Linked DNA regions of Homo sapiens: all the other regions are linked to region 1. Evidence: fine-mapped expression QTL. A gene starts in region 1. Each other region holds a variant in brackets. All regions are shown on one strand. Distances are between the middles of the regions. Region 1 holds the start of IDUA (alpha-L-iduronidase). Region 2 overlaps GAK (cyclin G associated kinase). Region 3 overlaps FGFRL1 (fibroblast growth factor receptor like 1). Region 4 holds the start of LOC105374340 (a long non-coding RNA gene).

Region 1 (6,422 bases):
TCCCCAGAAATATGTGAAACCCTGTAACATGATTGTTTTATGCGGTTACGATTCATTAGGTTTATACACAATATACCGTTTCTGTTGCTTTTGTTGGGGTTCAGAAAATGTCACCCAGAGTGAAGGCCTTGGAAGCCAGGCCTTCTCCTGCCTCCTGTCTCTGGCCCCTCATTGTCCCAGGCAGGTCGTAGAAACCTAAGCCCCTTTTCCCCAAAGCCAGCCATAAACCTAAAAGTATGACTCTAATAACTTTTCTCTGTCTTTCTGTGTAAAAACTGGCCATAAAGGAATTCTCTGGCCTGCCTTGTTTGACTGTATGTGGTCAGACCCCTATTCCGGGGCGTTGTGCCCCCACCCAGCAGGAGGGAGAGCTGCAGAGAGAGGCCTCCAGGAACCGAAGCAGATGGGCCTCGCTGGGCTCCCCCAGGAGTCTGTTAGCCTGTCAGGTCTTAACCTTTCGTCCAATCCTATTTCCAGATTCACAGAACCTGAGTATAAAAATGTGGTTTCCCCTGCGCCTTTAGGTCTTTGCTCTGAAAGCTGCTGTGTCACATAAAACTACAATCCAAGAAATCTGTGTACCCTTTTAGTGAAACTTCAGAAAGGCAGGGGAGGTTTTCCCTTCCCCCCGCACTCTTCACTTCTTCCTCTGCACCTCTGAGCTGGGATTTGGGACATCATTCTTTCTACTTGAAGAACACCATTTAATTTTGTCTTTTCTTTTTGAAACAGGGTCTCACTCTGTTGCCCAGGCTGGAGTGCAGTGACGTGATCTTGGTTCACTGCAGCCTCTGCCTCCCAGGTTAAAGCAATTCTCCTGCCTCAGCCTCCTGAGTAGCTGGGATTACAGACGCATGCCACCACGCCCGGCTAATTTTTGTATTTTTGGTAGAGACAGGGTTTCACCATGTTGGCCAGGCTGGTCTCGAACTCCTGACCTCAGGTGATCTGCCCGCCTCAGCCTCCCAAAGTGCTGGGATTACAGGCATGAGCCACCTTGCTCAGCCTAGTTGGATTTAATTTGCTGTTAAACCAATTCGTTATCAGCTTTACTGAGATATGATTTACATACAATAAAATGAAGCAAGTTCAAGTGTATCATTCAATAAATTTTTACTAAGTTTCATGAGGTTTTAATATTTTTTTCAATGTTTTCATTTTGAAAAATTTCAAACTCACAGAAAAGTTGCAATAACAGTATATAGTTTTCACCCAGGTTCACCAACTGTTAATATTTTGCTACCTTTGCTTTTATCTCAGTCTCTGTATGTAATCTAAATTTATTGTTTTGCTTTAATTTCCAGAGCAACTTTGGTTACAAATCTATTGATTCTTCACCTCTAAACCCTTCAGCATGGATCACAAATGAACAAAAAATCTCCATTCACAACCGTGATGCAATCATTGAGTCGTTTAATAATTCTGGAGTTTGACCCAGCGCGGTGGCTCATGCCTATAATCCCAGCACTTTGGGAGGCCGAGACAGGTGGATCATTCGAGGTCAGGAGGTCGAGACCAGCCTGGCCAGGATGGTAAAACGCTGTCTCTACTGAAAATACAAAAATTGGCTGGGCGTGGTGGCTCATGCCTGTAATCCCAGCTACTCAGGAGGCTGAGGCAGAGGTTGCAATGAGCTGAGATCGCACCACTGCACTCCAGCCTGGACAACAGAGTGAGACTTCGTTTAAAAAAACAAAAAACAAAAACAAAAAAAATTCTGGAGTTTATCATTGGTAGAATTTTGTTGCACAATGTACAAGGCATATTCCAAATTGTGAATGTCCCCATCATGCACTTTGTAATAATTTTTCCTGACCCGGATCCATTCCAGCACCGTGCAGTGAGGACTTCTGTCTGTTTTTGTTTTGTTTTACCTTCCTCCAGGGAAGGTGTACTTTTCTGTCCACAGGTGTCCCGGTGAGCGGCTCACCTTAATTCTCTCAGGGCTTGAGGTGATTTAAGGCTGGCTTCAGTCCCCACAAAGACAATTCTGTTGCTGGTTTACCTTTGCTTTTAGGGGATAGAACTTTGGGGTCCCAAGAAAAACCCAAAGTCTTTACCAGGCCCCCCGCCTGAGCCTCGACTTCTGTCCTGTGGCCACAGTGTGAGGAACGAACGCAGCAGCGTGTCGCCATGTCTTGTGTGGCTGGGATACGCTGCAGGGGTGTGGAGTCGCCGCCCCAAAGCGGGCCCCGCCCCCTCCCGGCTTGTCCCTGCAGAGCCCCGAGGCCTCAGAGGCTCCTCAGAGCTCCCAGTGCCCTGGACGGTTCCGTTCAGCGCTCTCCAGTTCTGATGGTTGCTCTCAGGAGGCGGCTGGTCTGAAACAATTCAGTTTCCATTGCTGTGTCCTGCACCACGGTGTGGGACTGGTGGTTTCTTACTGTTTTTCTCAGTTCTCTGACGCTTTGAGGAATTGTTTTTAAAGCGAGTTATCCATCATTTTAGTTGTTTTCTCTGGGGTCGTTGGACTGAGGGTCTTACCCCGCTGTTCCTGGAGACAGTTCTGTACTTGCATGGTTTCTCTCGCCTTTCCCTCCCTTTCTTACTTTTTAGTTTCTTAATGAATTTTTTTGTATTATGTTTTTCCTCCTTGCTAATTTGGAATATATACACACTATTTCACTTTTAAATGGCTAATCACTTTTAATGCAATTTCAACATAAGAAGACCTAATGTTAAGCAATATTTTAACCCCTCTCCCCAAAATAAAAAGACCCAGAACACTGTAACTCTAATTATCCTTCTCCCAACTTAGAGAGGATTATTGTCCAGTATTTTCGTTTTGTTAGTAGACTGTTCTTTTTTTCTTTTCTTTTTTTAGAGATGGGGTCTCATTTTGTCAACCAGGCTGGAATGTAGTGGTGTGATCATGGCCCGTCTCAGCCTTGAACTCCTAAGCTCAAGCAATCTCCCACCTCAATTTCGTGGGTAGCTGGGCCTCACAGGCATATACCATCGCATCTGGCTAAATTTTTTTTTTGTACAGATGGGGTCTTGGTACATCTCCCAGGCCGATTTCAAACTCCAGGCCTCAAGTGATCCTCCCGTGTTGGCCTGCAATTCCAAAGTGCTGGGATTGCAGGTGTGAGCCACCGCACCAAGCCTGTTCTTTCCATTATTATTTTTATACAATGTTTGCTTGGATTCACACATGCATACATGGACTACACATGTACTACAGTTGTCCCATGGTATCCTCGGGGTATTGGTTCCAGGACCCTCCCAGATACCAAAATTTGCAGGTGCTCAAGTACTTGATATAAAATGGCACAGTATTTGCACATTACCTACGCACATCCTACTGTGTAGTTTAAATCAAGATTACTTATAGTCCCTAAAACAATGTAAATGCTCTGTAAATAGCTGTTATACTGTATTGTTTTAAAATATGTATTATTTCGTATTGCTTTGGCTTTAAAACAATATTTTCAGTCTGCTTGGTTGAATCCATGGATCTGAAGCCAAGTGTAAGGAGGGCCCAGTGTGCTCTTCTGGGGTAATTCTCCTTCCTGCTAAAGCGCACGCTTTACTCAGGAGGCTGGGGTGAGAAAATCGCTGAAGCCCCGGAGATGGAGGTTGCAGTGAGCTGAGATCGCGCCACTGCACCTCAGCCTGGGCGACAAAGCAAGACTCTGTCTCAAAAACACACAAAAACAGAGAAAAACAAGACAGTAATGGCTCAACTCACATAGCACCAACGGGCGAAGCGTTCTTCTGAGCGCTTTCCGAGTCATCGGTCCTCAGAGCAGCCCCTGAGGCCCGCAAGGAAGCGGGGCTCCAAGCCCTGCCGTGCTCCCGGCTCCCCGAGGCTCCCCGAGGCCACCCAACCCCTCCCACCCGGCCATCGCCCCCTCACCAAGGCCCCGCCCCGCGGCGGCGGTCACATGGGGTGCGCGCCCAGACTCCGACCCGGAGGCGGAACCGGCAGTGCAGCCCGAAGCCCCGCAGTCCCCGAGCACGCGTGGCCATGCGTCCCCTGCGCCCCCGCGCCGCGCTGCTGGCGCTCCTGGCCTCGCTCCTGGCCGCGCCCCCGGTGGCCCCGGCCGAGGCCCCGCACCTGGTGCATGTGGACGCGGCCCGCGCGCTGTGGCCCCTGCGGCGCTTCTGGAGGAGCACAGGCTTCTGGTGAGCGCTCCGCGGCCTCCGGGACCCCCTGGCCGCACGGGGAGAGCTCGGGCGCCCCCTGACTGCGCACTGTGAGAGCTTCAGAGACCGGAGCTCCCTCCTCTGGGGCCCTGGCTCTCCCGGGCCCGCCCCCCGCCGTGTTTGTGGGTGGGTCCTCCACCTGAGTGGGCGCCGGGGCGTGAGCCTGGGCCGCCCCCTGCAGCCCAGGCCGATGCCCGGGATCCTGCTCTTTGAGGTAAACCAGGAGTCTCCCCTGGGAGTGGACGGCCCTGCAGCGGGACCTGGCCTGCCTGTCCCATTCCTTCCACCTAGAGCTGAGGTACCCGCCTTCCTGGCAGGGCCAGGGCCAGGGCTGGCGTTGGCCCCTCGTCTTACTGCTGCTGCCGTTCCCCATGAAGATGGGACCTCCCCACATTCCTGGCCCTAAGGGTCATTTTATTAGTCACTGAACGCACGGGCAGCGCCTGGATCCTGCGCCCGGGCAGTCCTGGGCTTGAACGTGTGTGTCAGCCGCGCTGCCAGCCATGCTGAGGCTCGGGACTGAGCCGCCCCTTTGTTGTCCCCAGCCCCCCGCTGCCACACAGCCAGGCTGACCAGTACGTCCTCAGCTGGGACCAGCAGCTCAACCTCGCCTATGTGGGCGCCGTCCCTCACCGCGGCATCAAGCAGGTCCGGACCCACTGGCTGCTGGAGCTTGTCACCACCAGGTGGGCGGCGGGCAGGGTCTGGGCGTCCCAGAGCCCCTTACAGAGGCACAGATGGGAGGGGAGGGCTGGGGGCTGCTCGGAAGACCCCTTGTTCCCCCACCTCCCGCCGAAGCACCCTGTTGGGGAGAGCGTGTCCTTGCTGGCTGTGCTGGGGTGAGGGCTGTGTGCTGGAGGGAGCCCCTGCATGGGGCACGGTGGGCTTCCTGCAGGTCTCCCTGCAGGCTCAGGGTTGGCTGCGCCGCACCTGGCTCCTGGTGCACCCGTGAGCATCCCTGTGTGTGTCTGCTGGCCAGGCTGGGTAGGGCCACTGCACCTGAGGGCTGAGCTGAGGTCTCATCGGTCACAGCACCCTGGGCCCTGACGCTGGTGCAGGTGGCCACCCTGTGAGGGGGAGGCACGAGGTGTGAGGGGCACTTGGGTGTGTGGGGCCTTCTGGAAACACAGAGACCCTCGTGCACTTGGCCAGAGCCGCTGGCTCCTACCAGCAGGGTGGGCACCGGGCAGGCCTGGGCATAGGGAGTCCTCTTGGCACCTTGGAGGCTGCATGATGGCGGGGGACCCTTGTTCAAATAAGATGTCAACCCTGAGCGTCAGGTCAGGCCCATCCCTCCTGAGCTGAGGGACGGTGCATTGGGGCCCAGCCAGCACTGTGGGCCAGCCTGTCTCGGAGGCAGAGGTTCTTGATTTCTGAGTGTTTGGGTCCTGCGTGTGATCAGAGGGCCTCCTTTCCCAGTTGGGGTTCCCCGGTTTCCCCAGGGCAGCTGTGGCACAAGAGTGCAGCTCTTGGGTGGCTCCTCCCTGGGAAGGGTCTCAGCAGTGGCTTGCAGACGTCTGCTGTGGGTCCCCAGGAGGGAGCAGAGGCTGCTGGGCAGGCCTGGCCCTGCTACAGATGGGCATCGGTGGCCTCCAGCTCCCTGTGGCGGGCTCGTGCTGTCTGCACGGCATCGTGCACACTGAGGAACAGCTGCTCCTCCTCAGCCGTGTCCCCGGGGCCCTCCCCGAGGAAGCCTCCTCTGCTCAGAATGTCTCTCACAGGCGGGCTGCAGCAGGCTAGCAGCAGGCTGATGCCCAGGGCCCCGTAGTCTCGGCGCAGGTCCTGCAGCGTGCTCACACCGGCTGCGTCTAGGAACAGCAGCGGGGCGCAGTCGATGACCACTGTGTGGAAGCCGGCCGCTGCGGGCACCAGCGCAGCCCTGGTGCTAACCGGGCCCAGGTCCTCGCCCTGGGCAGGGCCTCCCTCACCGACCCCCGTCTCTGAGCCCCCCTCCTTCCTCCTGGCAGCCATGCACCCTGCGTCCAGCCCCGTGAGGCTGTAGAGTGACTGCAGGAAGAAGTCCTTGTTGGCATAGTACAGCGGCCCCCCAAAGCGGAACACCCGCACGCCGGGCTCAGGGACGAGGCCCTCGAACTCTGTGGCATCCTCGTAGAAGGCCGTGTCCCCGATGCGGGCCAGCAGGGCGGTGCGTGGGCGTTGGGTGCGGCCGGCCAGGCTGAGCAGCGAGAGGATGACGCCAGCCAGCAGCCCGGCCTCTGTGCTGACCAGCATACAGGTGGCCGCGGTGCCTGCCCAGACCAGCGCGTCAGCCGGGC
Region 2 (7,568 bases), 95 kb before region 1:
GCCTATGCACATACTCACACCAGCATTTACACACACATGCACACATGTTCACATATGTATGTTAACACACCCATTCCCTCACATGCACACATGCTCAAAGACACATGCACCCACGCTCACATGTGCAGACGCTGCGGTACATGCAGGCACAAGTGCACACACGTCTACCTGGTGCTGGGGACACAAAACAGTGATCACAGCACAGAACAAAAAACATAAGAAAAAGCCCGAAGGTGTCGCCAGCTGTGGAAGGAACGTGGGCCCACCAGGGGCCGCAGTTCCTGCATCACGGGCACCAGTCCAGCCCAGCTCCTAGGCTGTTTCCTGACATAGCCGACGCCCTTGAGCTGGTGCGACCGCAGGGCCAGATGAGCAGCCAGCGTGCTCCTGGGCGTTCAGCTCCTCAGAAGAGCCAGCGCATGGACCCCGCAACGCAGAGGGGCCGCACTCTGGAACATTCCCAGTGTTCCGTGAGCAGAGGCTGCCGGGCCTGTGGGCCGATGTCGGGGCCACCCCCGCACAGACGCGCCCTTGGACAGCCCACCCAGAGGGAGACTTTCTCCCACCACAGGCTGGGACTCACCTGGTCTAAGTCTGAGTAACTAGGGCTTTAACTCAAGGACTGGCTCAGTGAGGCGCCACCACCGAGGTTTCACCCAATTTACAGAGTCCCGGGAACAAGCCAGGAACGCCCCAGAGTGAGGGGCGACATTGCAGCAAGGGAGGGGAGGGCCCAGGCATCTCCTCAGCAGGGCCTTGCCCCCCAGGCGATGAAAGGAAAGGGATCTGCCTGGCTCTGTGGGATGCTGGGCTCATTCCGACTCCCTGGGAGAAGCGGGTGATGCTGTCCCACTGCCTCAGGGGCCCCTGTGGGGCCTGATGACCAGCTGTTCCACCGCAGCCAGGAAGCAAGGGCCGGGGCTGCAGCCTGGAACGAGCGTGCGGCAGGTCCAGGGCTCTGGAGCCTCACACTCACTTAGCGACGGACTGGATGACCTTGGAGGAGGTGTCCTTGAGGTTGGTGAAGAGCCGCTCTGTCCCACCCCGCAGAATGTCCAGGAAGCCGCCATACGGCTGGTCGTACTCCGCCAGCGCCAGGCCTGCAGGGAGACACAGTCTCAGCAGGCCCCAGGTGCTCGGTCCCACCTCCCCAGGTGCGGGTTGCTGGCTGGGCCCAGGCCCCAGGCGCTCGGTCCCACCTCCCCAGGCGCTCGGTCCCACCTCCCCAGGTGCAGGTTGCTGGCTGGGCCCAGGCAGCAGGAGCAGGGAGTGGGTGGTATGGCCAGGCCCCTGACCCACACGTACCCAGCGGGAAGCCAGGCCTCAGCACTGGCAGGTCTACCCTGTCCTCAGCCTTTCCAGAGACCCAGGAAATGGTCAATCTGGGTGCGGAAGGGCTATGTGGCCGCCTCAGCACAGCTGGGGCTGGGACTCTGTCTGTGGGGATAGTCCGGCCTCACGGCCACAGCTTCAGGCCACCATGACCCTGGACGTGAAGGCAGAGTGGTGGCCCCTGGCCTGGTGGGTCCTGCGAGTGAGGTCTTCACAGGCGGCTTTGGTGGCACAAGTGGTGTTAAAAAAAAAACACCTGGCCAAAGTCCCTCATGCAGACAGGAGACCGAGGCCCAGGCAGCACCGAGCAGATGGGGGCACTGCAGAACCCAGCAGCTCGAGGACTCACCCTTCCTCCAGCCAGCAGAGACCCAGCCAGCCACTACACCTGCATGTGTGGGACCCACACTGCACGGACCGGGGTGCCCCAGACATGGAGCTGAGCTCCTCCCTGGGAAGCGGAGGTGAAGGACCCAGGTGAAACCTCCCACACCGCAGTGGGGATGCGGGGCGAGGTCGGGAGGGGTCAGCGCCATGCAGAGCTGCAGACCCAGCCGCTGCCTGTCAGGGCCATGTCCTCGACGGCTCACCCGGAACCTTCTGGAACACTCCCGGCACGGAGTTCCAAGAGCATGCAGCGTCTGTCTCCAGGGCCCTCTCCACTCCTCACCAGCTGAGGGCCCTCCAGGGACACCCAGGCCCATCACAGGTGCCCACTCCTCATGCGGCAGAAGGGGCCACCTCACACTAGCGGCAGAACTGTCTTCCCCCACCGCCCTCCACTGTCCAATGCCTGCTCCTGCCCCCTGGCCTCAGGGTCGCTACTGTAGTAAATGGTTCACCTTGCCCACAGCAGGCCTGGCCCTTCATTCCCAGCTCCTGGGAAGGAACCTGGGATGCCCCCTCCAGCCCCAAAAGGGGTGTCTGTTTCCCTGGGGCCTTGGGCTGTGCCAGACACGACAATGTGATCTATGCTGGGGTCTTGGCCACGGCGCAGGCTGCCTCCCACATAACCCCTGAGCGAGGCCGCCTGGTCACTCGGGCCCGGTCTCCTGGGCCCTGCCCTGGAGCCTCTTCCCTTGGCTGGCTTTAGTCCGAATCCTGACCCCCTCCTGAACTGCACCAAGACACCAGCTTTGCTGAGCTCTGTGAGCCCCAGGGAACTGCCGAACCTGAGGGTGTGCTCAGGGACCCTGACCTCACAGTCATCTCTGGTGGGAGAGGAGGCCCCGGGAGAGAAGGACCCCAGACTCCATCCCAATGTGCTGCGGGTGCCCGGGGTGCAGCAGGAGCGAGGGACAGGTGGCGGGCACAGGACAGGGCACTCACCTCCACTGTAGCCACTGCCAGCGGGGCCCACGGGAGGGGGTGGCCCTCGGGACAGTGTGGCGCTCCCGTAGCCTCCATTCTGCTCCAGGAGCTGTGACAATGAAAATGCAGAGGTCAGTTCTCTAAACTGACAACTCACGCCTGCCCACGTCGGGCAGAGGTACGGTATGGGTGCCCTCAGAGCCCATCCTTCTGCCCCCTGATCTATGACACAGTGCAAGGGAGGAACTTCCCACAGGCTGAAGCATCAGCTGGAACTCAACAAACGCACGCAGCCCTCATCCCCTCACCCCGCGGCCTGCCTCGCTTGGGGCTGTTGCAGGTGCTCAGCACTCCAGCCCAGCTTTTCAGACTCTTGGGCTACAGCTTCTGTTCCTTTTCCTTTTCTCTCTCTTCCCAGTCTGTCCAACCAACATTTTTTTTTTTTTTTTTGGTAGAGACAGAGTCTTGCTCTGTGACCCAGGCTGCAGTGCTGGAGGGCTGTGGCACGATCTCAGCTCACCGCAACCTCCGCCTCATGAGTTCAAGCAATTCTCCTGCCTCAGCCTCCCAGAGTAGCTGGGACTACAGGCATGCGCCACCACGCCTGGCTAATTTGTTTTGTATTTTAGTAGAGATGGGGTTTCACCACGTTGCCCAGGCTGGTCTTGAACTCCTGAGCTGAGGCAATTCGCCTGCCTCGGCTTCCCAAAGTGCTAGGATTACAGGCGTGAGCCACTGCACCCAGGCTTTTTTTCTTTTTTTTTTTTTTGAAACGGAGTCTCACTCTGTCTCCCAGGCTGGAGTGCAGTGGCATGATCTGGGCTCACTGCAGCCTCCACCTCGCATGCCCAACCATATTAAGCAGACACATGGCCTGTCTGTCCCAGGATGTTCCATCACTTCAGCTCCTGGGTTCTGGGGGCCACCCTGTGAGGCTCACTACCTCCTGGGGGCAGTATTTTATTTCATTGTGAACTCAGCTCCATCATGGACTGTGTTTTCTGGGGGAGTCGGTTGGCTTAAGCAGGGGTCTAACGTCTGTCCCCACGGGGTCCCGGCCTAGAAGCACTCAGATGAGAAGCACTGAGGACCCCGCCCCATCACTAGGGGCCTGATTCTGCCCATCTGCCCAGCGGCACCTCCTCCCGCCCCATCAAGAATCCCTCCAGCGCACTCGACAAAGCAAGAGGCCCACACCCCCCTGCGAGCCCACTGTCCTCTGTGACCTCCGGGGGAGTGGGCAGGCATTTTCTGTAAAGAGCCACCAAGCGAGGGGGACACGAGGCCCAGGCTGCTAAAGAGCAGGACGGCCCAGGAGTGATCCCTTCCTGCCGCTCTCTGACAGCCCCAGGGAAGCTTGCTGAGAGGCCACCAGTGACATCAACTCTCCCGCCTCAGAGCGCCCCACACCTCAAAATGCTTCCAGCACCCAGCACCAGGGCTCCCTCTGCTGGTGCACCCACCATGATGGCCGCCAGAGAGGGGCACCACAGCCTCTCCCCGTCTGCACTGGGCTTCCCAGCACTTCCCTGCTCCCAGGTCTCTGTACCCACGCGGCCCCCAAGGAACTGCAAACCCTCCACACAGCCCAAACCTTCCTTGTCCCACAGGGTCCTGTCCTCAGACAGGGACTCC[G/A]GGCAGCAGCTCTGACCTTCTCCCCACGCTCCACACCCACCGCCTGGGTCAGCTCCACTGCAGTGGCCCCTGGAAGTTCCGGCTTCCAGCTACCAGGGAGTGGAAACGACCCAAGGGCTGAAAAGGGGACAAAATGCAGGAGCCAAGAGTCCTGGGTCCTTGGACACAGACCCCTGCGAGATCTGCAGAGGGGCCCTGCGTGTCCTGACTGGGCCCTGAGCTGGGATGCCCAGGGGCCTCCCTGCTCCCCGTGGGTGAGGGCCGGGCCGCGTGTCTGCTCTGCCTCGAGGATCTGGTGATGGAGATGCTGCACCCTGTCCACGGCTGGGTCAGAAAAGACTCTGAGGAAAGCATCTTCCAGCCAACACGTGCTGCTCCCTCCCAGGCCTCACACTTCCACAAAGCACACGGCCCTGTGGGCCTCAGTCTCCCAGCCCCCAGGCCCTGATGCTGCCAGCAGCCACCGGTGCCTGGGAGTGGACCCTGGCCAGGCCCAGCCCTGACACAACTGCAACCAGGACGCCCAGAGCTGAGCTGAGGGTCAGAAACACAGACGCAGAGCAACTCAGGACACCCCAGGACGCCCAGAGCTGAGGGCTGGCTGACCTGGCTTGGACACCAGACCCCAGAAACAAAGACACAGGAGCAATTCATGCTGTCCTGTCAGGGGAAGAATCTAGAAAGGCGCCTGCAAACCTCAAGGAGGCCAGAGGAGCGCGTGCAGAGTGCGAAGACCTTGGCAATGGTCCCAGCATGCCCCCGGGGTCTCGGCCCTGGGCTGCGGTGGTGACCCTGCTCCTGCAGGAGCCCAGGGCCCTCAAGAGCTTGTGGCTCCCCACTGAAGTGGGCAGAGACCCCCAGGGTGCAGGGTCCGGACGAAGCAGCACAGCCACATGCCACCCTCCTCTCTGTGGGGGGATTTGGGGCTCACATGTGCCTCCCTCCCCTCTGTGATAGGAAACTTGGGGTTCAGGTGTGCCTCCCGCCCCTCTGTGATAGGAGACTTGGGGTTCACATGTGCCTCCCTCCCCTCTGCGGGGGATCTGGGGCTCACGTGTGCCTCCCTCCCCTCTGTGATAGGAGACTTAGGGTTCACGTGTGCCTCCCTCCCTTCTGCAGGGGATCTGGGGCTCACATGTGCCTCCCTCCCCTCTGCGGGGGATCTGGGGCTCATGTGTGCCTCCTTCACCACTGCGGGGGATTTGGGGCTCACGTGTGCCTCCCTCACCTCTGTGATGGGAGACTTGGGGTTCACGTTGCGGGCGGCCGCGATCTCCTGCAGCTGGTGCACCACCTCGGCGATGGACAGCCGCTCCTCCGGGTTCACCTGCAGCATGGCGCCTGCAGCAGAAGCACAGCGCGCTCGGCCCCACGGTTCCCCAGGCGGGTCAGCACCCCCTGCACTGGCAGAGGTCACAGACCACCAGAGGCCACTCCCTCTACACACATCAGTGACGTCAGAAGCAAGAAGGGAGCGGCAAAGGGAAGAACAAAAACCGAACAAAATGATCAAAAATCACCACTCAGAGCACCGCAAATTCACCAGCGGGGTGGGCGGCAGGGGAGCTCTCTGGAAACCCCCCCCCCAGGGATGTTGTCAAAACTATGGTGACGGGCGGGAGTGGGGCCAGGTGAGCAGTGCCCCAAGGGGAGCGGGGTCTCCAGAGCCACGCGGGGTCTGTGCTCCAGGGTCCTGCCCCACGCACGCATTCCACCGGGACTTACGGATGAGGCTGTGGAAGACCGTGTACTGCGTGTCGTGCGGGGGGATCGAGTACTTCCCATTGACTATTCGAAGTTTCGCTCCATCCTCAAAAGGGTGCTGCCGGAAGCACAGCAGGTACAAGATGCAGCCCAGGGCCTGCGGGGAGAGCAGGGGTGATGCCTAGGCCCACGGGGAGCGCAGGGGTGACGCCTGGGCCTGCGGGGAGAGCAGGGGTGATGCCCAGGCCCACGGGGAATGCAGGGGTGACATCGGAGCCGTGGGGAGCGCAGGGGTGACACTGGGGACTGCAGGGAACACAGGGGTGATATCGGGAACATGGGAAATGCAGGGGTGACACCGGGGCCTGCGGGAACAACAGGGGTGACACCCGGGCCGCGGGGAGCGCAGGGGTGACGTTGGGGCCGTGGGGAGCGCAGGGGTGACGCCTGGGCCTGTGGGGAGTGCAGGGGTGACACCCAGGCCTGCGGGGAATGCAGGGGTGACGTCGGAGCCGTGGGGAGCGCAGGGGTGACTCCTGGGCCTGCGGGGAGTGCAGGGGTGACTCCCAGGTCTGAGGGGAGAGCAGGGGTGATGCCCGAGCCCAAGGGGACAAGGGCGTGAGAGGAGCACCGCAGACATGGTGACTGGCCGAGGGGTGGCTCCTTCCTTGGGGATCCTAGGGGTATAGTCGGTGGTTACACAAACATCACTTGACTGTGCGGAGCTGGCGGCGTGCTTCCCACGGCACGGGGAGGCCTGGATGCTCCACTTCTATTCACCGCAAAGAACTGTCCAGGTGACAGTGTTAAACGGACTCTAGGCTCTTAAGATTAAAAAGTTCCGTTCAGGCCGGGCGCAGTGGCTCACGCCTGTAATCCCAGCACTTTGGGAGGCCGAGGCGGGTGGATGACAAGGTCAGGAGTTCAAGACCAGCCTGGCCAACATGGTGAAATCCCGTCTCTACTAAAAATACAAAAATTAGCCAGGCGTGGTGGTGCATGCCTGTAGTCCCAGCTACTCAGGAGGCTGAGGCAAAGAACTGCTTGAACCCGGGAGGCAGAGGTTGCAGTGCGCCGAGATCGCGCCACTGCCCTCCAGCCTAGCAACAAAGCGAGACTCTGTCTCAAATAAATAAATAAATAAATAAATAAATAAATAAATAAAGGTTCCTTTCAAAATTCCGGGGTTCCCACACTCATGCACTGAAGATCTATGAGCTGGTGGGACCAGCACAGACCCTGCTGTGTGCTATGCGAGGGGCAAGGCACCTGTCCTGTCCTTGGCAACAGCAGAGACCCACTTTTCAGAACTGACCCCATATGCAGGGTGTAGGGCACAGGGCAGAAGCTGCAGGAAGCAGCCTCCTCAGTCTGCTCAGGATTTTCGCAGAACTGGCCTTGAACAATCAGCGACTTCTCGTCAATCACCCAATATGTGAGCCCAGAGAAGGGACTGGTGATTACTTCGGCATCAGGATCTTATCCAGCCAAGAGTAAGAGCTCACACCGGGACCCCAGGCCGAGCAAGAGCCGGCCAGGAGTGTCCTCGTGCGGGATGTGCAGAGGACCAGTCACCAGGGTGGGCC
Region 3 (7,568 bases), 36 kb after region 1:
CCCTCCTGCGGGGGGTCTTGGGCCGGCAACAGCAGGGGGTCCGGGGAGCCCAGGTGGGGGTGGGATAGGCCTGGCGAGGGGGAGGGAGGCTGTTTGCTTTAGGATAAGCCTGGCTCCTCTGGCCCAGCTGCCTCTGCCCGTGCCTACAGCGCTTGCAGGCCGGCCCTGGGGGCCACGCTTCCGGCCATCCAGCGGTCATTTGTCTCTGCCCCCTTTCTCAGTGGTGACCACAGGCGGGGGTCCCGCCTCCCTGTCTGTGCCTGTCATCCTGCACCTCCCGCATGCCTTTGGGGACCCTTACCTCACCAAGCCTTGCTTGTATCTGCCTGGGGCAGGGTGGGGGCTGGGAAACCTTCCCGAAGTGTAGCTGGGGCTTTCAGCCTCTGAGGTGGGCTCCCTCCCCAGATGTGGGGGGCTGGGTCAGTGTGCTCCCACCCAGGACAGGGCCAGGCACTCGCTCTCTTGCTTCTTCTGGACAGTTGTGTGGGTGAACACTTGTGTGCACCCATGAACATGCACGTGTGAGGCCTGTGCCCAGGTAGCCAGCCAGGAGGCCCAGGCACCCCTGCAGGCTGTGGGCCACAGGGGCTGGGCTGGCCAGGGGCCTTGGCCACTCCCCCTTGGTCCCGGGAGGCCCTGTGGGTGGTGGGATTTCAGGCAGCGACAGGTGCTGGTGGGGTCAACCTGGGGTGCGTCTGGGACCTGGGCCGGCTGGGAAGGGGTCAGGAGGCCCCAGTGCTGTGGGCCCTGCAGCCGCTTCCTCCCCGGGACAAATTTGCCAGAGCTGCCCCCAGCCCTGGGCAGCTCACAGAACCACACTGAGGGGGTGGTGGGCTGGCAGCCCCCCACAGCCGCCATCTCATTTCCTCTCCGGGGAGCTGCAGGGAGGGTAGGGAAGGAGGGGCTTCAGGGCTGGGGCCCATGGCCTGGGTGGGAGGGTCCTGAGTTGAGGGAGAGACGTGAGTCAGAGAAGAGACCCCCACATGTTTTCTCAGAGAGGCCAAGGACTGGGATGGGCCGGGTGAGCCAGGGCTGAGAAGAATCCCTCCCTCCAGAGCCTCAGCCCACCCTTTGTGTTTCTGGGCACAGCAGGGAGGCGCCGTGTCTCCACTCCCAGCCCCAGCGGCCAATGATGCCTGTGGGCTCAGAACCTAGAGGCCCTGGGCAACGCCCCCTGTGCTATCAGCACTGATTGGGAGGCCTCCAGAGAGGTGATAGGGATTCTCTGTGAGGGTCCCTGTCCCCAGACTTGGGGGTCAGAATGGGAGCTGCTCCCTGAGTGTCTGAAGACGCCAGTGGGAGACGTCACAGGGCCACTGTTAACTGTGTATTGGAGGAACACGCGGCCCCAGGCCCCATCGAGATGGCCTGGAGCAGCTGCTACCTCTTGGTGTTCTGCACGCAGCCTGGACGCTCCCAGACAGCAGTGGCTGCAGTGCGGGATGGACACTGTCACCCATGGGCTGGCGAGAGATGCCCTGGGAACTGTGGGGTGCCTGCGGCCGCCTCTCCGACATGGAGAGCAGTGAGTGGGCTGTGGTCGCCGCTGCAGGACTTGGGAGCAGCACGTGGGGAGTGGGGCACGCAGGGCCCTCCTTTCCCAGGAGCTCCATCCAGGTACAGGCCCTGCGGTGCCCCGAGTTTCTGAGGCCTGCAGGGTCTGTGTGTTCTAGGTTCATCTTCCTGGCCGGCTTGGCACTGCCCACTGGGGCTGGTCACACACACACAGAACCCTGGCCCTGCCTTCCAGCCCAGAGGCACCCAGGCAGGGGATGGGGTGGGGTGGGGACTGAGGCAGGGGATGGGGTGGGGACCCAGGCAGGGGATGGGGTGGGGACCCAGGCAGGGAATGGGGCGATGGGGCGGGGTGGGGACCCAGGCAGGGGAAGGGGCGGGGTGGGGACCCAGGCAGGGGATGGGGTGGGGTGGGGACCCAGGCAGGGGAAGGGGTGGGGCTGGGGTGGGGACCCAGGCAGGGGATGGGGCGGGGTGGGGACCCAGGCAGGGGAAGGGGCGGGGTGGGGACCCAGGCAGGGGATGGGGTGGGGTGGGGACCCAGGCAGGGGAAGGGGCAGGGCTGGGTGGGGACCCAGGCAGGGGATGGGGCGGGGTGGGGACCCAGGCAGGGGAAGGGGCGGGGTGGGGACCCAGGCAGGGGATGGGGCGGGGTGGGGACCCAGGCAGGGGAAGGGGCGGGGTGGGGACCCAGGCAGGGGATGGGGCGGGGTGGGGACCCAGGCAGGGAATGGGGGTGGGGTGGGGACCCAGGCAGGGAATGGGGTGGGGACCCAGGCAGGGGAAGGGGTGAGGTGGGGACCCAGACAGGGGGTGGGGTGGGATGGGGACCCAGGCAGGGGATGGGGTGGGGCGGGGACCCAGGCAGGGGATGGGGTGGGTTCCTTTCTGCCAGGAAAGGAGGCCTCTGCCAGGAAAGGAGGGCTCGGCTTCTCCACATAGGGTGGGATGGTGCAGGTGGCCATGTGGAGCCGCAGCCTTTCTGCTCCTGTGGGTTTCACAGGTGGTGGGAGGACATACTGGCTGCCCCCCAGACAGGAGCGGCAGTGCCCGTGGTCAGCCCGAGCTACGTCTCTCCAGAGGCTTGCTCTCTGACCCCAGGGCCTTGGGGTCATGCCCCCTCAAGGCTAAGGTGCCTGGCAGGGTACGGCCCTTGGGGGTGGGCAGACAGACCTGGGCATCTGTGGTCCCTGAACTCAGGTCTGATATTGACACAGACGTGGGTGCTGCACAGACTCTCATCCACACATTGCACAGGCTCAGGCAGCCCGCCGTGCTCGGTTGCTTGTGGATAGCTGTGGGGTCGCTGGCCCATGCCCAGGCCCGGCTGGGCCCTGGGCTGATGGTTGGGTGGGAATTAGGTGAGGGGCCTGGGGCCTCTTTGGGACCCACCAGGCCCCCCATCCCCCTACTGCCCTTGTCCTTGGGGGGCCACTGTCCCCTCTGACCTCGGGTGTACGGCTGCTTCCTGTATGACCAGAAGGAGACTCTGCCCTTTTGGTTGGTGGTTTTCGAGAGTTACCAAGCGCAGCTGTTTTGCATCCTCTGGGGACCCTGCTCCCTTCTCGTGTCTCAAAGAGCCAGCCTCTGGGGCCACGGGGCTGCCCCGGCCATGAGAGGCTGCTGACGTGGTGTTTGCTGGGCCAGTGCTCAGGGCTTTGGTGCATGTGGGCAGCTGAGGCCTGGGTCAGGGGCACTGCACCTCGGCCCCTCTGCTCATCTTGGGCAGGTGACCCAGGTGGAGCTCAGGCCCGAGGTCTGTGCTGGGCCGTGGGTCCCCTTTTGACCGCCCCCCCGGCTCCGGACCCCAAGCCCCTCCTCGCTGACTGTTCCTCGGTCCCACCCGCAGGCCCCCCAAAGATGGCGGACAAGGTGGTCCCACGGCAGGTGGCCCGGCTGGGCCGCACTGTGCGGCTGCAGTGCCCAGTGGAGGGGGACCCGCCGCCGCTGACCATGTGGACCAAGGATGGCCGCACCATCCACAGCGGCTGGAGCCGCTTCCGCGTGCTGCCGCAGGGGCTGAAGGTGAAGCAGGTGGAGCGGGAGGATGCCGGCGTGTACGTGTGCAAGGCCACCAACGGCTTCGGCAGCCTGAGCGTCAACTACACCCTCGTCGTGCTGGGTTAGTCGCTGCTGC[G/A]GTCAGAGGTCATGGGCTGGGTTGGAGCCAGGCAGGGGTGTGCAGGAGGGCGGACGGGGACACACCTGGGGCCCGAGAGTCAGCCAGCCCCCGGCAGAAAGCCTTCCTTCGGTGCCCTGCCCCACCTCAGCTGGCTGCACCTCTGCCACCATCCCCCAGGTATCCTGTCCCGTTCCTGTCCCCGTCAGGCTCCAGCCTCGGAGCCTTCCTCCCAGCGGAGGGCGGAGGGTGGAGGGCGGGAGCCGAAGGCAGTGGTCCCACAGAAGGGCTGGGGCCCGAGGCCTTGGCAGGGTGTGCCGGCCGTCGGCTGTGACTTTGAGGCTCGGGTTTCGGAGTTCAGAGGAGCCGCCGGGATGCGTGGCCTTTCTGTTCTCTTCTGCGCCTGGGGCCCGGGCGCTGGGCTTGGACAGGTGTCCAGAGAGACACGCCCTCCATACCTAGGGACCCGGCACCCCGCCTGCTCCGCTGGGCTCCTGGGTGTGGGGCCCTCGGGTGGAGCTCCTGGGAGCTGGGCTGGCCCGTTTCTTTTTTTTTTTTAATTCTACTTTAAGTTTTAGGGTACATGTGCCCGTTTTCTGAATACAGGAGCCTGGCCCAGGCCCCAGCAGGGTCTGGGGGTGCGGCCTGAGACAGCCTGGTCCTGGGCTCAGTGAAGGAGCGGCTGTCACAGGGTGGATGGAGGGGACATTCCACAGCACGCCCTGCCCCTCGGCATTGTGTGGAATGGGAAAACTGGCTGTCCCCCACCCCCACCCCACAGTCCTTTCAAAGGGGACGATGACCGGGTGGTATGAGAGTCTCGTCTGTTCACCAGCCCTCGGCCCCTTGATGTAGGCTAGGGTTACTGCAGCTGCTGGCCGGGCCCGGCTCCCTCCTCCCCCGGGGCCTGCAGACCCCCCGGAGCCAGAATGGGGGCCGGCCCTCCAGCCCCACCCGTGCCCATCAGGGTCACCTGCGCCCAGTGTGGGCCAGCGGCCCTTGCCCAGCTGTCCCTGGGATTCTGGGCTGTGGGTGTGTGGCGCAGCCCCCTGCCTGGGTGTCCAGGGCTGTCCCGGCTGGGGCTGGGGGAGCTAGAGGCCACGGGGGAGTTGGGGGAGCTCCTCAGGGCCCCCCTCACCTGCCCTCCCTGTGCACCTCCGTCTCTCTGCAGATGACATTAGCCCAGGGAAGGAGAGCCTGGGGCCCGACAGCTCCTCTGGGGGTCAAGAGGACCCCGCCAGCCAGCAGTGGGGTGAGCAGGGGGTGACGGGGGTGGGGGGCGTCCGTCTGTCCCGGCCCCTTGGCTGCATCCCCGTCCTCTGACCTCCACGCCACCCCACCCCGCAGCACGACCGCGCTTCACACAGCCCTCCAAGATGAGGCGCCGGGTGATCGCACGGCCCGTGGGTAGCTCCGTGCGGCTCAAGTGCGTGGCCAGCGGGCACCCTCGGCCCGACATCACGTGGATGAAGGACGACCAGGCCTTGACGCGCCCAGAGGCCGCTGAGCCCAGGAAGAAGAAGTGGACACTGAGCCTGAAGAACCTGCGGCCGGAGGACAGCGGCAAATACACCTGCCGCGTGTCGAACCGCGCGGGCGCCATCAACGCCACCTACAAGGTGGATGTGATCCGTGAGTGTGGCCCCGGGCGCTGGCGGGCGGGGGGTGCTGGTGGGCGGGGGCGCTGGCGGGCGGGGGTGCTGGTGGGCGGGGGCGCTGGTGGGCGGGGGCACTGGCAGGGCTTGGGGGTGGTGGGCTGGGGGTGCTGGTGGGCCCAGGGTGCTGGCGGGGTAGAGTCCGGCGCGGCCCAGGAGCCATGCCCGCGTGCCACGTTCCCACAGAGCGGACCCGTTCCAAGCCCGTGCTCACAGGCACGCACCCCGTGAACACGACGGTGGACTTCGGGGGGACCACGTCCTTCCAGTGCAAGGTGCGCAGCGACGTGAAGCCGGTGATCCAGTGGCTGAAGCGCGTGGAGTACGGCGCCGAGGGCCGCCACAACTCCACCATCGATGTGGGCGGCCAGAAGTTTGTGGTGCTGCCCACGGGTGACGTGTGGTCGCGGCCCGACGGCTCCTACCTCAATAAGCTGCTCATCACCCGTGCCCGCCAGGACGATGCGGGCATGTACATCTGCCTTGGCGCCAACACCATGGGCTACAGCTTCCGCAGCGCCTTCCTCACCGTGCTGCCAGGTGCGCGGCTGCCACGCCACGCCACACCATGCTGGTGCCCGGACCCGCCCCCTGGGCCCGGCGTCCCACCCACCGGGTGGGGCCCCACCCTTCCCTCCCGGGCCGTGCTGGCCAGGTCATCTGCCGAGGGAGGGCAGCCCAGGGGCACCGTCTCCACAGCCCCTGGGATGGGTCTGGGGTGCTCTCCTGGTCTTTGTGTCGGCGTTCCCCTCCCTACCTCCTTTCCTCTCGCTCTTGCAGACCCAAAACCGCCAGGGCCACCTGTGGCCTCCTCGTCCTCGGCCACTAGCCTGCCGTGGCCCGTGGTCATCGGCATCCCAGCCGGCGCTGTCTTCATCCTGGGCACCCTGCTCCTGTGGCTTTGCCAGGCCCAGAAGAAGCCGTGCACCCCCGCGCCTGCCCCTCCCCTGCCTGGGCACCGCCCGCCGGGGACGGCCCGCGACCGCAGCGGAGACAAGGACCTTCCCTCGTTGGCCGCCCTCAGCGCTGGCCCTGGTGTGGGGCTGTGTGAGGAGCATGGGTCTCCGGCAGCCCCCCAGCACTTACTGGGCCCAGGCCCAGTTGCTGGCCCTAAGTTGTACCCCAAACTCTACACAGACATCCACACACACACACACACACACTCTCACACACACTCACACGTGGAGGGCAAGGTCCACCAGCACATCCACTATCAGTGCTAGACGGCACCGTATCTGCAGTGGGCACGGGGGGGCCGGCCAGACAGGCAGACTGGGAGGATGGAGGACGGAGCTGCAGACGAAGGCAGGGGACCCATGGCGAGGAGGAATGGCCAGCACCCCAGGCAGTCTGTGTGTGAGGCATAGCCCCTGGACACACACACACAGACACACACACTGCCTGGATGCATGTATGCACACACATGCGCGCACACGTGCTCCCTGAAGGCACACGTACGCACACACGCACATGCACAGATATGCCGCCTGGGCACACAGATAAGCTGCCCAAATGCACGCACACGCACAGAGACATGCCAGAACATACAAGGACATGCTGCCTGAACATACACACGCACACCCATGCGCAGATGTGCTGCCTGGACACACACACACACACGGATATGCTGTCTGGACGCACACACGTGCAGATATGGTATCCGGACACACACGTGCACAGATATGCTGCCTGGACACACAGATAATGCTGCCTTGACACACACATGCACGGATATTGCCTGGACACACACACACACACGTGTGCACAGATATGCTGTCTGGACACGCACACACATGCAGATATGCTGCCTGGACACACACTTCCAGACACACGTGCACAGGCGCAGATATGCTGCCTGGACACACGCAGATATGCTGTCTAGTCACACACACACGCAGACATGCTGTCCGGACACACACACGCATGCACAGATATGCTGTCCGGACACACACACGCACGCAGATATGCTGCCTGGACACACACACAGATAATGCTGCCTCAACACTCACACACGTGCAGATATTGCCTGGACACACACATGTGCACAGATATGCTGTCTGGACATGCACACACGTGCAGATATGCTGTCCGGATACACACGCACGCACACATGCAGATATGCTGCCTGGGCACACACTTCCGGACACACATGCACACACAGGTGCAGATATGCTGCCTGGACACACGCAGACTGACGTGCTTTTGGGAGGGTGTGCCGTGAAGCCTGCAGTACGTGTGCCGTGAGGCTCATAGTTGATGAGGGACTTTCCCTGCTCCACCGT
Region 4 (7,568 bases), 140 kb before region 1:
TGACTTGGCTGTGATGTGAGGGCCCCATGGGGACTGCTGTTCATGCCTCATGGATGATCCTAGCGTTTCAGCACCGAGCAGAGCAGGTGGTGGTGACAGGTCCCCAGGCGCCTTCCCAGAGCAAAGCCTGAAGTGAGGCCAGTGGGACATCTGGACGGAGGTGAGGTTTCCTGGGCTGGGGGTTGGCAGAGTTGCAGCAGGAACCACAGCAACCCCTCTACTTGGCCCAGGAAAGGAGTCTGGGCGTAGCCAGGGTCTCTGGATATGCAGCTCTATCAGTCTCTTCTCACACTGCTATAAAGAAATACCCAAGGCCGGGTGCGGTGGCTCATGCCTGTAATCCTAGCACTGTGGGAGGCTGAGGCGGGCAGACCACAATCTCAGGAGTTCAAGACCAGCCTGGCCAATATGGTGAAACCCCATCTCTACTAAAAATACAAAAAAAAAAAAAAAAAAATTAGCCGGGCATGGTGGCGTGTGCCTGTAATCCCAGCTACTCAGGAGGCTGAGACAGAAGAATCACTTGAACCTGGGAGGCGGAGGTTGCAGTGAGCCGAGATTGCTCCACTGACTCCAGCCTGAGCGACAGGTCAAGATTACATCTTAAAAAATAAATAAATAAATAAATAAATAAAGGTCGGGCATGGTGGCTCACGCCTGCAATCCTGTAATCCCAGCACTTTGGGAGGCTGAGGTGGGCAGATCACGAGGTCAGGAGATCGAGACCATCCTGGCTAACATGGTGAAACCCATCTCTACTAAAAATACAAAAAATTTGGTGGGCGTGGTGGCGGGTGCCTGTAGTCCCAGCTACTCGGGAGGCTGAGGCAGGAGAATGGCATGAACCTGGGAGGCAGAGCTTGCAGTGAGCTGAGATTGCACCACTGCACTCCAGCCTGGGGGACAGAGCGAGAGTCCGTCTCAAAAAAAAAAGAAATACCCAAGACTGGGTGATTTATAAAGGAAAGAGATTTAATTGACTCACAGTTCCCCATGGCTGGGTAGGTCTCAGGAAACTTACAATCATGGTGGAAGGGGAAGCAGGCACTTCCTCACAAGGCGACAGGAGAGACTGCACAAAGAGAGAAGAGCCTCACACTTATCAAACAGCCAGATCTTGTGAGCACTCACTCACCAGGGGGAAACCACCCCCAGGATCCAATCACCTCCCTCCCTCAACATGTGGGGATTACAATTCGAGATGAGATTCGGATGGGGATACAGAGCCAACCACATCAGCAGCTGAGGGGGCTGGCAGCAGGGACTTGGAGTTTGATCTTGGGGAAGTGCCAAGGCCAGAATGTGGGGGCTGTGCCGCATGGACCTGCCTCTTCTGGGCCCTTCTCCAGTCATTAGACCAACCGGAAGCCCCCTCTATCCTAATCTGAGGCCCATGACATCTACGGGGTCTGCAGCCTCTTCCACAAAGGGGGTGCCCTAGACCTGAGACCAGCATCCTCAGCTTGCGCATGACTGCCCGGCACACCTGGGGCTGGGGGCAGGTTCCCACCCCATCTGAAGGGGCTCTGATGCTGGTATGCGCACAGGGGCCACCCCCAACTGGCAGCACAGCCTCCCCCTGCCCTTGGGTTGCTGTGCTTTTCCTCAGAGCTCCTGGAGGTAGTGAAGGTGAGAACAGCCAGCTGCTGAGGCTGCTGCTGTTTCTTACCTAAGGTGAGGCCCGGCAGGACGCTCAGCAGCTCCAGGACTCGGTGGGCAAAGCTTTGGGGCAAGCCCTTTTGGAGAAAGCAGTTTGGGGCGGCCAGACGGTGGTCTGTGGCCCTGGAATCTTTGTCCAAACTGACAGAAGGAGGAGGAAATCGGTGTCCCTGCCATGCCCCCTGTGCCCAGGGGTCGCTGCCTGGATGAGGGTCTGGCATGGGGCTTAGACCTTCAGCTCCACCCAGGCCTGTGGGTGGGGTCGGCGCGCGGCTGCCTGGAGCTATGGCCACAGTGCAGGAGCGGGGATGAGCTCCTGGAGATGAAGACATAAGCAGGACTTCAGCCTCAGCTGACCTCAGCACTCAGCTTTTCTGCTAAAAGCAGCTCAGGGACAAAATCAGCCCCTCCCCCAGATCTGAACCTCATTCCAGCCACACTGGCCTCCTGCATGACTCAGTGCCCCCCTCATCTCCTTGCAGCCAAGTCCTCCCACTTGGAGGCCCACAGAGTTGGGGGGGGCCTCCATCTTGGGGCAGATGCCCACACCTCTGGGGTTGGCCTTCCTCAGAGCCCTGGAGCTCCCTGGGGGCACAGGGAGAGGAGGCCCATGGGAGCCCAGGGAGGTGGCCTGAGGGCAGCTGGACATCTGGGGGATGGGGGGGTGTCACGGGCCACCTGGAAAGCAGCCTGCTTAACCCACTGGAGCTTACTATTGAGGGTCTGAGCCCCCGCAGGACAGAAATGCAATCTGCACACGTTTGAGGAGCACAGTTTGAGGCATTTGACGCGTGCTTGCCTGAAGCCAGCACATCCTCCTCCGCCCACACCCGCCAGCCACGGATCTGCTGCTGGCCTGTCGCGGACTTCACATTTGCTGGAATTTTACACGAATGGAGTCGTTCACTACCTCCCTCCTTTTGATCTGGCCCCATTTACTGAGCTTGCTGCTCTTCTGACAGTATGGTTTGGATCTGTGTCCCCACCCAAATCTCCTGCCAAACTGTAATCGCCACATGTCAGGGGAGGGGCCTGCTGGGGGGTGACTAGATCCTGGGGCAGACTTCCCCTTGCTATTCTCCGGATAGTGAGTTCTCACAAGATCTGCTTGTTTGGAAGCGTGCAGCACTTTCCCCTTTTACTCACTCGCTCTCCCTCCTCCCACCAGCTAAGACGTGCCTGCTTCCCCTTCGCCTTCCGCCATGATTGTAACTTTCATGAGGCCTCCCCAGCTATGTGGAACTGTGAGTCCATTAATCCTCTTTTCTTTATAAATCACCCTGTCTGAGATATGTGTTTATAGCAGTGTGAGAACAGACTAACACACCTGGGCATGCCCTGTGCTGCAGTCACACCAGCAGCTCACCCCTCTCCATGCTGAGCAGGACCCCGTGGCGCCGTCACACCAGCAGCTCACCCCTCTCCATGCTGAGCAGGACCCCGTGGCGCCGTCACACCAGCAGCTCACCCCTCTCCATGCTGAGCAGGACCCCGTGGCGCCGTCACACCAGCAGCTCACCCCTCTCCATGCTGAGCAGGACCCCGTGGCGTGGACGCACACAGCTCCTTCGTATGTCCAGCTGTGCGTGGATCATGGGTTGTTCCTGAACACGTCTGTGTGGCCTTGCTCTTTCATTTCTCTTGGGTCAACACCTAGGAGCAGATTGCTAAACTGTGTACGAAATTTCTATTTTGCTTTTTTTTTTTCTTTTTGACATGGAGTTTTGCTCTTGTTGCTCAGGCTAGAGTGCAATGGCGCGATCTCGGCTCACTGCAACCTCCGCCTCTCAAGGTTCAAGCGATTCTCCTGCCTCAGCCTCCCGAGTAGCTGGGACTACAGGTGTGTGCCACCATGCCCGGCTAATTTTGTATTTTTAGTACAGACGGGGTTTCTCCATGTTGGTCAGGCTGGTCTCCAACTCCTGACCTCAGGTGATCCGCCTGCCTCCGCCTCCGCCTCCCGAAGTGTTGGGATTACAGGTGTGAGCCACCGCACCGGCGTCTATTTTGCTTTTTAAAAGACTGCCGGCCGGGCGCGGTGGCTCACACCTGTAATCCCAGCACTTTGGGAGGCCGAGGCGGGTGGATCACGAGGTCAGGAGATCGAGACCATCCCGGCTAACACGGTGAAACCCCGTCTCTACTAAAAATACAAAAAATTAGCCGGGCGTAGTGGCGGGCGCCTGTAGTCCCAGCTACTTGGGAGGCTGAGGCAGGAGAATGGCGTGAACCCGGGAGGCGGAGCTTGCAGTGAGC[C/T]GAGATCCCGCCACTGCACTCCAGCCTGGGCGACAGAGCGAGACTCCGTCTCAAAAAAAAAAAAAAAAAAGACTGCCAAGCGGTTTTCCAAAGCAGTTGTGCCATTTTAAGCTCCCACCCAGACTGCGTGAGGGTGTGGGCTTCTCCACATGCGTGGGGACACTTGGCTTGGTGGGTCTTGACTGGGTGCCCTAGTGGGTGCGGCAGCATCTTGCTGTGGCTCCAACTTGCATTTCCTCCAGGACCAGTGATGTGAGCATCGCTGCTTGGCCGCTGCCATTTGTATCTCCGTGAAGTCACCGAGAAGATGCTGTCACACAAGGGGGTGTCACACAGGTGCAGTCTCTCTTCAAGCTTCACGTGGTCTATGCATTACAACCCGGCAAGGATGACCTTGTGTCCACGTGCAGGACGGAGCATAGTCACAGGCTCGGTGACCGCAGACCCGGCTCCCACGTGCAGAATGGAGCCTCAGTGACTGTGGGTAGCACTCAGGCCAGTGGCCGGCTGGGAAGATGGTGCATCCTGGGCCTTTCACGTGTGGGTGTCCGGGTGGCGCCGTGCGTGACCCTGTGCAGCCGTGTCTGCGTGTGCGCAGGTGTCCGGGTGGCGCCATGCGTGACCCTGTGCAGCCGTCTGCATGTGCGCAGGTGTCCGGGTAACGCCGTGCGTGACCCTGTGCAGCCATGTCTGCGTGTGCGCAGGTGTCTGGGTGGCACCGTGTGTGACCTTGTGTAGCCGTCTGCGTGTGCGCACGGCTTGTACATGCCTGTGCACCTGCGTGTCTCCATGCTGAGCTGAATGGTTGGAAGAGGAGAAATTCTGGCGGTAGCATGGCCAGGTGGGGGCCACAGACTCCCTTCTGAGCTGGGTCAGCCTGGATGGGGGTTTTCCTGTCCTGCAACCCAGACCCCACCGTCCTGGCCTCCATTCTATGCACTCCATCTCAGCCTACCCCGGACCAGTGACCTGCTGCACTCCACACCTTCCTCCATCCTCCGCAGTCTCGGCCTAGCCTGGACCGGCCACCCGCTGCTCTCCACACATAACCAGAGGCTCAGGCCCCTGACGGAGGAAGGGTGTGCAGCCAGCCAGAGGGAGGTGGACTCACTTGTCCAGGCAGGGTGGCTGGGTTTGCCACAGGCCGGGGAGAAGCGACCCAAGCTTTCAGAGTTAAGGGTCTGGGGCGGGGTCTGGGGGATTAGTTTGGAGCTTGGGTGTGACGTGGGCGGCAGCAGGAGAGGAGGGGGCCGCACAGCACAGGGCTGAGGCTGGAGAGCCTAGAGGGAGCGTGGCCCGAGCTGCCCCCAGAGCAGGAGCATCTGAGTTGGGGTGGCCAGACCCGGAGCCGGAATCCAGACGACCTTGATGTGAAAATCTCAGCACCTATTTAGCTTCTCATTATTTTTTAAAAGAGCTAAAAATAGTGGCGGGTGCATAGCAAACGTGCAGTCATTATTCTCTGAAAACAGGAAGAGCCTGGCGGTGAGTTCAGGGCTATGATTCAGGGCCTCCTCGAGTCTGCTGTGGGGTGGGGGCTCACCATGGTCACCTTCTCCTTCCAGGGGCCCCTGGTCCTCCACCAGCCCGACAGCCCGGAGGCCACCTTGGCCCTGCGGGGATGGCACAGGGGCAGTGTGGAGCCCACCCTTGCTCCTAGGTCCAGGGCCCAGGGGCAGGGGCCAAGTGGAGAGGAGAGAGGAGTCCCGGGGCCGAGGGGAGGAAGGGGGTCTGGGGACTGCAGGGGCCCCCGCCCTTGGCCTTGCCCTGGCTGGGCTCTATGGCCCCCTGAAGAGCTGCCCAGAGCCGCTGCAGCCCCGGGACCCGCTTCTCCTCTCCACTCGGCCCCTGCAACAATCCAACCACGGCAAGGTTGCTGAGGAAGCACAGCCTTGTGCCCCAGCTGGTGAACGGCACCTGGGCGAGTGGATCCACACTGGAGACACAGCAGTCATCGGAAAATAGTTTAATTCTGTACAGACAACCACGGGACTGATTACAAAGTGCGGTGCAAACACCAGGGCCCATGAGCGCCAGCAGCGTGGCCCACCACGTGCCGGGGCTCCAGAGGCCACGCCCGAAACACCAAATAAATCACAGACGTGACAATTGCGGGAGGAGCATGAATCAGCTGTTCCTTCGGGAGGAGAAAAAGGAAACAACAATCAGAGGCTTTGGAATGCTTTCTCTTCATGTGCCTGGAACGCTGGGCGGGCGGTGACCCGGGGCTCGGAGCCCCACCCTGGCCACACCTGCTGTCGCCCACGGGGTCCTCACGGTGGGGACCCAGGTCCCACGACGGCTCCCAACCTGTGGAGCTGTGTGCGCAGCCACCACCACTGCGGCCTCAGAAGAGGGGCCGGGAGCCCTGGTTCTCAAACTCCGACCAGGCGTCATTCAGCTCCATGAAGATCATCTTGGCGTGCTGCTCGTACGGCTGCCCCGCAGCCTATGGGTGACAGGCGGTGTAAGCGCCTCTTATAAGCATGCGGGGGCGGGCGGGGCAGGACCCCCCCCCCGCCCCGCCCCTGAAGGCCTCAAGCGGCCGCCTGGCAGCTCTGCTCACCTTGTCGGGGTGCACAGCCAGCACCGCGCGGCGATAGTGCTTCTTCACTTGCTCCGGAGCCACCAGGTCGGCCATGCCCACGGGCGTCCAGCGGCTCTCCCCGTCCCACAGCACTGTGTGCAGCGTGGACAGCAGGGCCCGGATGTTCCGCTCCTTGCCCTCAATCCAGTCCAGGAGCTGCGGGAGACACGGAGCTTGCCGAGCCCTGGGCACCTGCCTGCCCTCCTCCTCTGCACCGCGGAAACTGAGGCACGACGCTGAGGAAGTGCCTGGTCACGTGGGGTGGGCTCAGCCCGGCTCACAGACACTGTCCCACTGCACGCCCTGCCCTCAACTATATAGAGCCCACTCCGGACGACACAGGGCCAGGTGGTCTTCATGTTTCAGGGCCTGGGGCCAGAGGGACCCTCGTCTCAGCCAGATGTTCACCGAGGACACAAACCCTGGTTCTGGTGGTGCAACCCCTTGGCCCATCCCAGGCCCCAGACTCCGAGGGAGAAGGGGATGGTCCCTGGTGCCTGTGAAAGGACCCCAAGGTCACAGGCGCATGTGGCCTGCAGAGCTGGGCATCGGCCAAGCCACAGAGCAGGGCGTGTCTCAGGGCCGGCACAGTGACAGCCTGACCGCTGCATCCTCACCCCCCAGTGAGCGTCCTGGGTTGGGAGGCTCAGTACCCAGAGCAGCCCCCAAGAGACGCCTGCCCTCAACAGTCTCTGCAAACACCCCGGGGCACTCACTCCTGTAACGCCCGCCCACCCCACCCCCACCAGCGCTGAGCCATCTGGGCACGTGGGGAGCAGCACAGCCTGGGGCCTGACTCTGCCCTGCCCCCCTGGCCTCAGGCCACCCTGTCCTTGAGGGCTGCCAGGCCCATCGGCAGTGACAGGTCCCTGTCTGGAGACGCCGGCTCCATGTGGTACAGCAGATGCTCCAGGGGTGAAAGGTTGCTGTCTGGAGACGCCGGCTCCATAAGGCACAGCAGATGCTCCAGGGGCCATGGGTTGAGGCCTCTGGGCTCCCAGGAAGAGCTGCCCACCCACCCACCTTCAGCTTGAGTGGGTCCGTGTCTTTAGCCAGGTCCTGCTTC

The links. PIP is the estimated chance that this variant, and not a neighbour inherited with it, causes the effect.
Region 2: its variant is the best candidate, but not a certain one, in a credible set for the expression of IDUA in whole blood (INTERVAL, PIP 0.89).
Region 3: its variant is the best candidate, but not a certain one, in a credible set for the expression of IDUA in whole blood (INTERVAL, PIP 0.52).
Region 4: its variant is the best candidate, but not a certain one, in a credible set for the expression of IDUA in atrial appendage (GTEx, PIP 0.72).

What each region holds. Positions count from the first base shown.
Region 1 is chr4:983,118-989,539 of GRCh38, forward strand. IDUA (alpha-L-iduronidase) reads left to right here and starts at 3,927. Exons shown (of 14, transcript NM_000203.5): 1 at 3,927-4,125; 2 at 4,692-4,832. The coding sequence starts at 3,968. SLC26A1 (solute carrier family 26 member 1) reads right to left here. Exons shown (of 3, transcript NM_022042.4): 3 at 4,540-6,422. The coding sequence ends at 5,716. RefSeq lists enhancers at 2,289-2,338, 3,514-3,573, 6,154-6,422 and silencers at 3,784-4,433, 4,216-4,393.
Region 2 is chr4:887,871-895,438 of GRCh38, forward strand. It overlaps GAK (cyclin G associated kinase), which reads right to left. Exons shown (of 28, transcript NM_005255.4): 8 at 6,004-6,139; 9 at 5,507-5,619; 10 at 2,662-2,752; 11 at 977-1,100. Among named protein-coding and RNA genes, the nearest start is that of GAK, 41 kb to the right of the region's middle. The variant G/A (reference allele first, on the strand shown) is at 4,279.
Region 3 is chr4:1,018,839-1,026,406 of GRCh38, forward strand. FGFRL1 (fibroblast growth factor receptor like 1) reads left to right here. Exons shown (of 7, transcript NM_001004356.3): 3 at 3,365-3,637; 4 at 4,803-4,883; 5 at 4,979-5,263; 6 at 5,473-5,826; 7 at 6,067-7,568. The coding sequence ends at 6,509. Among named protein-coding and RNA genes, the nearest start is that of FGFRL1, 11 kb to the left of the region's middle. RefSeq lists enhancers at 1-170, 6,907-7,408, 7,409-7,568. The variant G/A (reference allele first, on the strand shown) is at 3,653.
Region 4 is chr4:843,411-850,978 of GRCh38, forward strand. It overlaps GAK (cyclin G associated kinase), which reads right to left. Exons shown (of 28, transcript NM_005255.4): 26 at 7,526-7,568; 27 at 6,482-6,658; 28 at 5,867-6,364. The coding sequence ends at 6,263. LOC105374340 (a long non-coding RNA gene) reads right to left here and starts at 3,411. Exons shown (of 4, transcript XR_925033.3): 1 at 2,987-3,411; 2 at 1,670-1,975; 3 at 1,022-1,072. The variant C/T (reference allele first, on the strand shown) is at 3,916.